2 separate regions of the Homo sapiens genome follow, and region 1 is linked to region 2. A link means that fine-mapping ties the variant in region 2 to the expression of a gene that starts in the linked region. Tissue or cell type: unexposed skin. Region 2 holds a variant in brackets; the other region holds the start of a gene. All regions are shown on one strand. Distances are between the middles of the regions.

Region 1 (4,247 bases), 77 kb after region 2:
TAGATGCAGAAAGAAGTAAAGGAAGACCCAGAAAGAATGGCTTCTTGAGAAAATACCACTTAACCTTTTAACCTTAGAAGGTGAAAAGCTGTTTTGTATTATTTTGTTTTGTTGGTCCTAGTAAAGGGTAACAGAGAAATGACCAACGTAGCAAGGAAATGACCAGATTGAGCAAGGAAGAATCTCTTGGGGAATAAAGATAGAAAGGAGCCAAGTCATACAGGACCTAAATTCTTCCTGAGCATTCTGAACAATGAGAAACTGGACAGATACATGATCAAATTTGCAGTCCATAAAGATCCCTATGGGCCTTTCTATGGGCAGCAGCTTTAAGGAAGAAATAACAACAAATATTGAGAAACTCTTTGCAGGAAATGCAGAAACCCAGGGGGAAAGGATGGCATTGTCTTAGATATGACAGTGGAAGCTAATGAGAAGTGTCCAGGATTGAGGTTATTTTGAACATGAATCCAAGAAGAGAACTTGGTAGCAAATTAAGTGTGGAAGATGATGCATAGAAAGGGGAAAGGGAAATATCAGGGAGAACAACGAGGTTTGGGCTTGAGTGATCTACTGGAAAGAAAAGAAGCTGTAGGGAGAATAGAGACAAAAATATTGTGGTGAAAGATCAAAATAGTAGTATGGAACATATTAGATTTGAGGTAGCTGTAAAACATCCAAATAGTGATTTCAAGAACTAAACACTTCCAAAGCTTCCCTTTGATAAAAACCAAAGTCCTTACTCTAGACTGCACTAGATTTAGACCCTCACTGCTTCCATTATTTCATCTCCCATTTTGCCCTCTATCACTTTGCTCAAGCCAGAGTGTCCTCCTGGATGTTTCTCAAACATGTCAAACCAGCGTCAGCCTCAGAACCTTTGCGCTTACTATTCTCTCTGTCTGGAATGCACATCCTTGGAATAAATGCATAGTTCAAATCCTCATTTCCTTCATGTCTCTGTGTGATATCACCTGAAAAGCAAGACCTTCTCTGATTACGCTATGATACATATCTCCTTAACCCTCCAGCACCCTTATCCTTCTTGTCCTTTTCTCCATAATATTTATCTGATATATTTTATAATCACTTATTATTTTTTGTCACTTGCCTCCCTCAACAAAAAGGCAATGGAAGCTCCATGAAGACAGAGATTGTTATTTTTATTTACTGATCTGTCTTAAGAGATAAATACAGTTCTTGTCATGACTTGGGAAGGGTTTGAGATTTTATCCTACTTGGAAGCTAAGAAGTTAGCCTGCCACATTATAATGGTTTCTGGCAGAAGGCACAGACTCCTGGCTCAGAGAAAAGGGACTTAATTATTCCATAGCAACAGCCAGAGTATTGGAATTTGTTCTGGTTTCCCAAGCCCCAATTTCCACAGGCCAATTTAAGGGGCATCAAGTGATAGTTGCAGGGAAAGTACAGTGTGTTAAAGGAAAGAAAGGCCAAGCTTTTAAAAACCCGAAATCTTTTGTAAAGGGCAATTAACATGGTCTTTGCCCTAGAAGGAGATATTAACTTTATTACACTAAACAGTAAACAAACCTGCCTTTTGGTGCAGAGGGAGACATTACGTATTTTCTAAGGTCGTTTGTTATATAAACACCCTTAAAAAGATAGTCTGAAACAAAGGTTATCAGTACCTCTACTCATAAGACACACCAAAACATGAGAGAGGATGGAGAATTCTCTTCTAATAACACATGGTAGATATCCAGCACATATTCTCTTTTACCCAGCACATATTCTCAGATGAAAGAGTAACCCTTTGAATTAGGTGTTATTATTATTTTAATTTCCAGATGAATACACAGAAGCACAGCAAAAGTGGCTCCAACAAGCACCCTCTAGCTCCAGAATACACGCTTTAGGGAACTGAGTCCTCTCTCTCTCTTGCTTTCTCTTTCCCTCTCATCTGCCACTCCATCAGCTACTTTAGGTTTTGTGAATGAGTGAGGGAAAAATAGAGAAAAGAGAAAGAAGAATAAGAAAGGAAGAGTGGAGGAAAGGAAAAAAGAATGGAGAGGTTTTACCCTACTTGGAATAAAATTCTTTCTAGTAGCTATCCATACCTGCTCATCTATCCAGAACTACAGAGTAGAAGGGATCTTTGAGTTCATCTTACAGGTGAGAAAACAGGCTTGAGAAGGGAATGACTTTCCCACAACCACAGAGGGAGTTAGGGATCAAACTAACCACTAGAACTATTTTCCTGACAGAATCTTTGCCTTGCATGTTTCAGGCCCACCTGGCTCCTTTCACCTTTCTTACACAGGTGACATTCCCAGAACCTGGAGGCCAGGCTATGACACAGAGTCAATCAATAACCAGGGAGATCTGTGATATAGCCCAGTAGGTGGGGCCTTGCTGCCATCTGCCATATGACCCTTCCAGTCCCAGGCTTCTGAAGAGACGTGGTAAGTGCGGTGCAGTTTTCAACTGACCTCTGGACGCAGAACTTCAGCCATGAAGGTAACAGGCATCTTTCTTCTCAGTGCCTTGGCCCTGTTGAGTCTATCTGGTAAGTGTTGCATATTTTTCAAATTTAAATAAAACTGTTTTGACCTGTTGCTTTGTGAAGCACATTATCTTCTAGACTTTTGATGTAGTCTAGTCTTCGAGAGATGTTTTGGACCTAATGAGATGAAATAAAATCAACAGGTAAGAATTATTTTTTAAGAGGAATTTTTAACCTACTATAAGGAAAACAATTCTACTAGTAAGAAATTCCCAGAAATAAAATGGTTTTCCTCTATTGATGTGGCTGACCCTTTGTTGGGATATGGTAGAGAAAAAAGGGTAAAAATATTTTAACTTTAAGTATACTTCTCATTCTGTAAATGTGTAAGGCCAAATTACAAATTTTAAATTCTCATGGGATTGCATAAAATAGATAAATGGCTTCCAGTTATTCAGTATAAAAGGCATAATTTGACTGATTAAAAATTTATTTTTTTATTGTATAGGTTTCAGTGTACTTGAATCATGTATAGTTTGTCAGATTTATCCCTGAATAGCTAATATATGTGATATAAAGGGAATTTTTTATTTTCAATTCCTGGTATTTCTTATTAGTATCTGGAAATACAAAAATTGCATTTTGTGTATTTACATTACACATTTTGAATGTTTTGAAAGAAAATATTCTGCTTGAATAGATGGTGCACATATACCTCCAACTGCATCTTGACAATGTTGACAGACAACTCTGAACCCGCAGAGCCAAGATCAGTTTCCTTTTTATCACTGGAAATGGTTAACATTTTCAACTTCACCTCTCATGTAGTGAAGGATCCTGTGGAGAGCCAAATCAGCACTTTGCTAAGAAGAGGAAGAATATTGTTTGTTTTATTTGCTGAATATTTATGGCAACAGTCAGTGTTCCCTTTCCCCCTCCTCATGCATGTTAATTAATACAAATAGATGCCTGTGATGAGCACCTGCTCTTCAGTTTTTAGACTCAACTAGATTCTAAAAGCCAGTGGGCCCCCAACAACATCAAGTTCTGACTATCCCGGGGGAAATTCTCCAAGCTCATAGATGCCTCACTAATTTTCATTACATTTAGATACAAAGAACTACCTCTTTGCTCAGATCACCTCAAAGATTGATGATATTAAAATTAATTTTCAGGAATGTTTCCTTATTTGATTGCTATCATATTAGTTCCCTTTCCCTTCCATGAACTTATCCACAGTTATCATTTCCTATATGTTGTCAGCAAAACCTCTGCTATTTTCTGGGGGAATAGAGATTAGCTATTTTGACTACCTGTAAATTCAACAAATGTGAGTTAGACCCATAGTCCATATGATGCAATTGTTGGAAATAGCTCTTTGGGAACTGATAGTGAGTTGGCAAAAGAACTCTATTTTTTCAACAATACTTACAAAAGGGAATTTAAATGTAATTGAAAAAGCTAACTTTGCATCAGAAGACCTGGTTACTGCTTATGATAACTGTTTCACAGCTAGTTATAAAAACTCTCCATACTTTCATCTGTAAACTGAGATAAAAATTATACTTCACTAATTGTGAGATTAAAGATCTAGTAACTGGTTTTGAGAATGTTTGTGAGTATTCAAAAGATAATTTGCTCAGTGCCTGATTCATTTCCAGCAGTAAGTGCATAATTTCTGTTTTCAAGGAAATAGATCAACTTCCTAAAACATCAAATCGAGATACTTTGGTCATAATCAAAGTTTTACTCAAACTTTTTAAGGTTTTGCCAAGGAAGGGGT
Region 2 (4,205 bases):
TTCTTACAATGGTGCTGATATATAGGCAGAAATTTATATTATGTCCCTTTACAGATGTAGAAACTGAGACCCACAGGGTACCTGTCATTTGCCAGAGTCACACAGATAATAACCAAAAGAACCTGGTTCCTCTTCTCAGAATTGTTTATTAGCTCATTGATTCAATGCATATTTGTTGGGTATCTTTTACAAACAAAGCACTATCCTAGACAGCAAAGCCATCTCCCTGAACAAGACTGATCAGAATGCTTCCCTTTGAGATGTTAACATTCCTTGGAAAGAGAGACATTAAATCATCAAAAATTAAGTGCTGAGAAGAAAGAATACAGAGTGTAGAAAACTTAATCACATAGGGATCTGAATTGGATTAGAGAGTCATAGAAGTTTTCACCAAAGACAAGACATTTTAGCTGAGACCTGAAGCTATGAGGAACAAACCAAGAGGAGAGAAAGAATAAGAACAAGAAGCAGGGAAAACGGAGGGTATTGAATCAGGACCATGCAATGAGCTAGTGTTACTGACAGGAATCGAGGCCAGCTATCCTGACACTCAGGACAGTGCTAGCTTTTTGACACCAGACCTCCAAAAGCAGCTGATTTAGGATTTGTCTGCTTGCCCTGTCCAGCTGCTATTCCTAAGAAGCCAGCAAATTTCTGTCTTAAGTTGCTGTATCTACAGCCTGCTCTTATCTATAGAGTGCCCTTGTGATGATTAGAAAAATATGTACCCTTTCCCAGGCAAACACAGCAATGTGTCAGGATCCATGGCCTAACTGATAGAGGACACTTGAATGTCATTCCCCTACTAGCCTCTTGGACAATCACAGTGCTCAGTCATCAGTAGTGACCCTGATGACATAAATCTACCTCAATGAAGGCCTTTTAATGTCTAGATTTTATTAGAGACTCTGGCCTTGTCTGTCCTATACAAACAGTGGTGATCTAGAGTCTAGAGTCTAGATTCAACCCTTTGTGCAAGAGAGACAAGACCAGTGTTTTCCTGAGAAGATACGTTGGGAAGGCCTTGGAAGGCCACACCACACAAGGTGCAACAGAGCTGCCTGATTATGTTCCAGAAGTGGTTTGGTGCCTTGTGAAGAGTATAACTAGTAAGTAAGAAACATTGCCCTAGCCTTGGCTCTGAGATGCTGGATGAACCTCCTTTTGTCCATACTTTAGTTAACTTTCCCATTTATAAAATGGTATTTTGACACATGCAAAGTATAAGTATTGGTAAATCAATAAGTTTAGGTATTCCCAAGTCCACATTCCAATTAAATGAATTTATAGCATTCCTCAGGATAACCAATATCATCTAGACTTGAACCAAACTTTATTCTCTTGCGTGTATTGCAAAGGGAGATTATTTTACATCTGAAATACATAGCAGCATCTCAAATCCAACATTCTGTTTCACCAAGTGCAAATATATTTAATCCAGTTAATTATTTCTTTTAAAAAAAAAAAGATGGTAAGGTAGACTTTATTCAAGGGGAACCATGGTGATGGGTATGGGTATAGAGACCAAGGCAATGGAGTCTGGCAGTCGGGGAGAAAGACTGGTCTTAATCAATTCCCAGATTATTTTTTCTTCTGCTGCTGTTTTTTTGTTTTGTTTTGTTTTGTTTTGTTTTGTGTGTGTGTGTGTATGTATGTGTTTTGGTATTTGCCATGTGCCTCAGTTAATATGTATTCAACTCTAAAAAAGATAGTTTTGCCTTCGAGAAGCCTACAGCCTATTGGTAAAGACATTTAAAAAGGACCTAGCAGGTACATCAGAGGATCATCTATCTCTATTTGGAAAAACCGGAACAAACTTTCAGAGGAGGTGAAGTCAAAGGTGAGACCAAGACCAGGCAATAGAGTAGGCTCCATGAGGATTCAGCAGTAATAAAACATTCTTCTCTTGAGACCTACAGGCTAGGAATCAACCTAAGTGTCCATCAACAGGTGAATAGAAAAAGAAACCATGATATGTATACACTGGAATACTATTTACTATAGAGCCTTAAAAAAGAAGGAAATTCTATCATTTGCAACACAGTTGAACCTGGAGGACATGATGTTACATGAAATAAACCAGGCACTGAAAGACAAAGAAAGACAAATACATACCACATGATCTCATTTACATGCAGACTCTAAACAAGATGAACTCACAGAGGCAAAGAGTAGAATGATAGTTACCAGAGACCGGGAGTTGGGTAGTGGGAGGGATTGGGGAGATGTTGGTCAAAAGATATAAAATTTGAGCTAAATAGGAGGAATGAGTTTGAGACATCTATTTTACATCATGGTGGCTATAGTTAATAACATTGTATTGTATACTTGAAAATTGCTAAGAGAGCAGATTTTAAGTGTTCTCGCCACACAAAAAAAGATAAGTATGAGTAGTCTGGGTATTAAATAGCCAGATATAGCCTTTGCACAATATATGCATATTTCAAAACATCATATTGTGCACCACGAATATGTACAATATTTTGCCAATAAACAAATAAGTGGATCCACAAGCTGAAAGAGAAGAGAGCTGTTAAAACACTTAGTTCTCCTATGAGAACACATGGGCACATTCAGGGGAGCAACACACACTGGGGTCTGTCAGGGTTTCAAGGGGAAAGAGAGCATCAGGAAGAATAGCTAATGGATGCTGGGCTTAATACCTAGGTGCCAGCCAG[G/A]CACGGTAGCTCACGCCTGTAATCCCAACACTTGGGAAGGCTGAGGCGGGCAGATCACGAGGTCAGGAGATTGAGATGATCCTGGCCAACATAGTGAAACCCTGTCTCTACTAAAAATACAAAACTTAGCTGGGCATGGTGGCACATGCCTGTAGTCCCAGCTACTAGGGAGGCTGAGGCAGGAGAATCACTTGAACCAGGGAGTCGGAGGTTGCAGTGAACTGAGATCGCGCCACTGCACTCCAGCCTGGCAACAGAGCGAGACTCAGTCTCAAAAAAAAAAAAAAAAAAAAAGAAAGAAAGAAACCTAGGTGACAGGTTGATCTGTGCAGCAAATCATCATCATGGCACATGTTTCCCTATGTAACAAACCTGCACATCCTGCTGGCTACATGTGTAGCCTGGAACTTCAAATAAAAGTTGATGGAAAAAAAAGAGAAAAATAAAAGTAAAATAAATAAGACAGTTTATGTTGTCGTTTTCTGTTTGTTTTGAGACAGAGTCTCACTCTGTCACCCAGGCTGGAGTGCAGTGGTGTGATCTCCGCTCACTGCAATCTCCGCCTCCCAGGGTTCAAGCGATTCTCCTGCCTCAGCCTCCCAAGTAGTTGGGATTACAGGTATCTGCCACTACGACCAGCTAATTTTTTGTATTTTTAGTAGAGACGGGGTTTCACCATGTTGGCCAGGATGGTCTTGAACTCCTGACTTCGTGATTCGCCCACCTCAGCCTCCCAAAGTGCTTGGATTATAGGTGTGAGCCACCGCGCCCAGCCAACACTTAGTTCTTATACAATGGGGTCAAGTGTGCTATAGGGCAGATGATGAAGTAACAAACTGCCTGGAGAAGGGTGGAGTGGTTATCATGAAGGTATCACAAAGAAGGACCATTTGAACTGAGGAATACGTAGGAGTGATCCGAAGGGAGACAAGGAGGAGGGTATCTGAGGAAGAAGGAAGAGCAAGAGCAGACGCATGGGGTGTGAAAGGGCATGCCCATGTGGGAACAAGGGATTGTCCCAGAGCACGAGGGAAGGCATAGAGTGTAAAGGGAGGGTGTAGGCTTGCCTTGCCAATCTGATTTGTTGCCTGCTGCTTGGCACTGACGAGCAATTCTACCTGATATCCCTTTAATTATCAATGCTGGCCTTGAAACTAGCCTCAAGAGATTCACTCCAGAACCCTTTATAGATACAAATTTTAAAAATCAAGAGGGTTTTTCTTTCCCTATATGTAAAATGTTTGGTTTGAATGATAGGGTATGTCTCATTAGTACAGATCCAAAAGCAAGCTGTGCAGACATCTTGTGCAACAATCTAAATTCCAAAGCAGATGATGTCACCTATCTATGCCCTATAAATGGAGCATTGTTTCACATGTATCTGAACAATTTATCTGCACGAATACCCCGTGCTACCAGAATGGCTGTCTCAGTACTTCGCCTGACAGTTGTCCTGGGACTGCTTGTCTTATTCCTGACCTGCTATGCAGGTAAGTGCTTCTGATCACAGCCCATGAATTGTTCAGT

Alleles and levels. Positions count from the first base shown, and alleles are read on the strand shown. Sizes are in standard deviations (SD) of each study's normalised expression.
With allele G in place of A in region 2, the expression in unexposed skin of the gene that starts at base 2,379 in region 1 is higher (small effect, 0.22 SD a copy in GTEx).

The links. PIP is the estimated chance that this variant, and not a neighbour inherited with it, causes the effect.
Region 1: SPINK1 starts here. The variant in region 2 is the best candidate, but not a certain one, in a credible set for the expression of SPINK1 in unexposed skin (GTEx, PIP 0.79).

The regions. Positions count from the first base shown.
Region 1 is chr5:147,829,803-147,834,049 of GRCh38, reverse strand. It overlaps SPINK1 (serine peptidase inhibitor Kazal type 1), which reads left to right and starts at 2,379. Exons shown (of 4, transcript NM_001379610.1): 1 at 2,379-2,527. The coding sequence starts at 2,473. LOC124901101 (a long non-coding RNA gene) reads right to left here and starts at 3,545. Exons shown (of 2, transcript XR_007058987.1): 1 at 3,180-3,545; 2 at 2,439-2,641.
Region 2 is chr5:147,906,395-147,910,599 of GRCh38, reverse strand. C5orf46 (chromosome 5 open reading frame 46) reads left to right here and starts at 4,062. Exons shown (of 4, transcript NM_206966.3): 1 at 4,062-4,168. The coding sequence starts at 4,099. The variant G/A (reference allele first, on the strand shown) is at 2,679.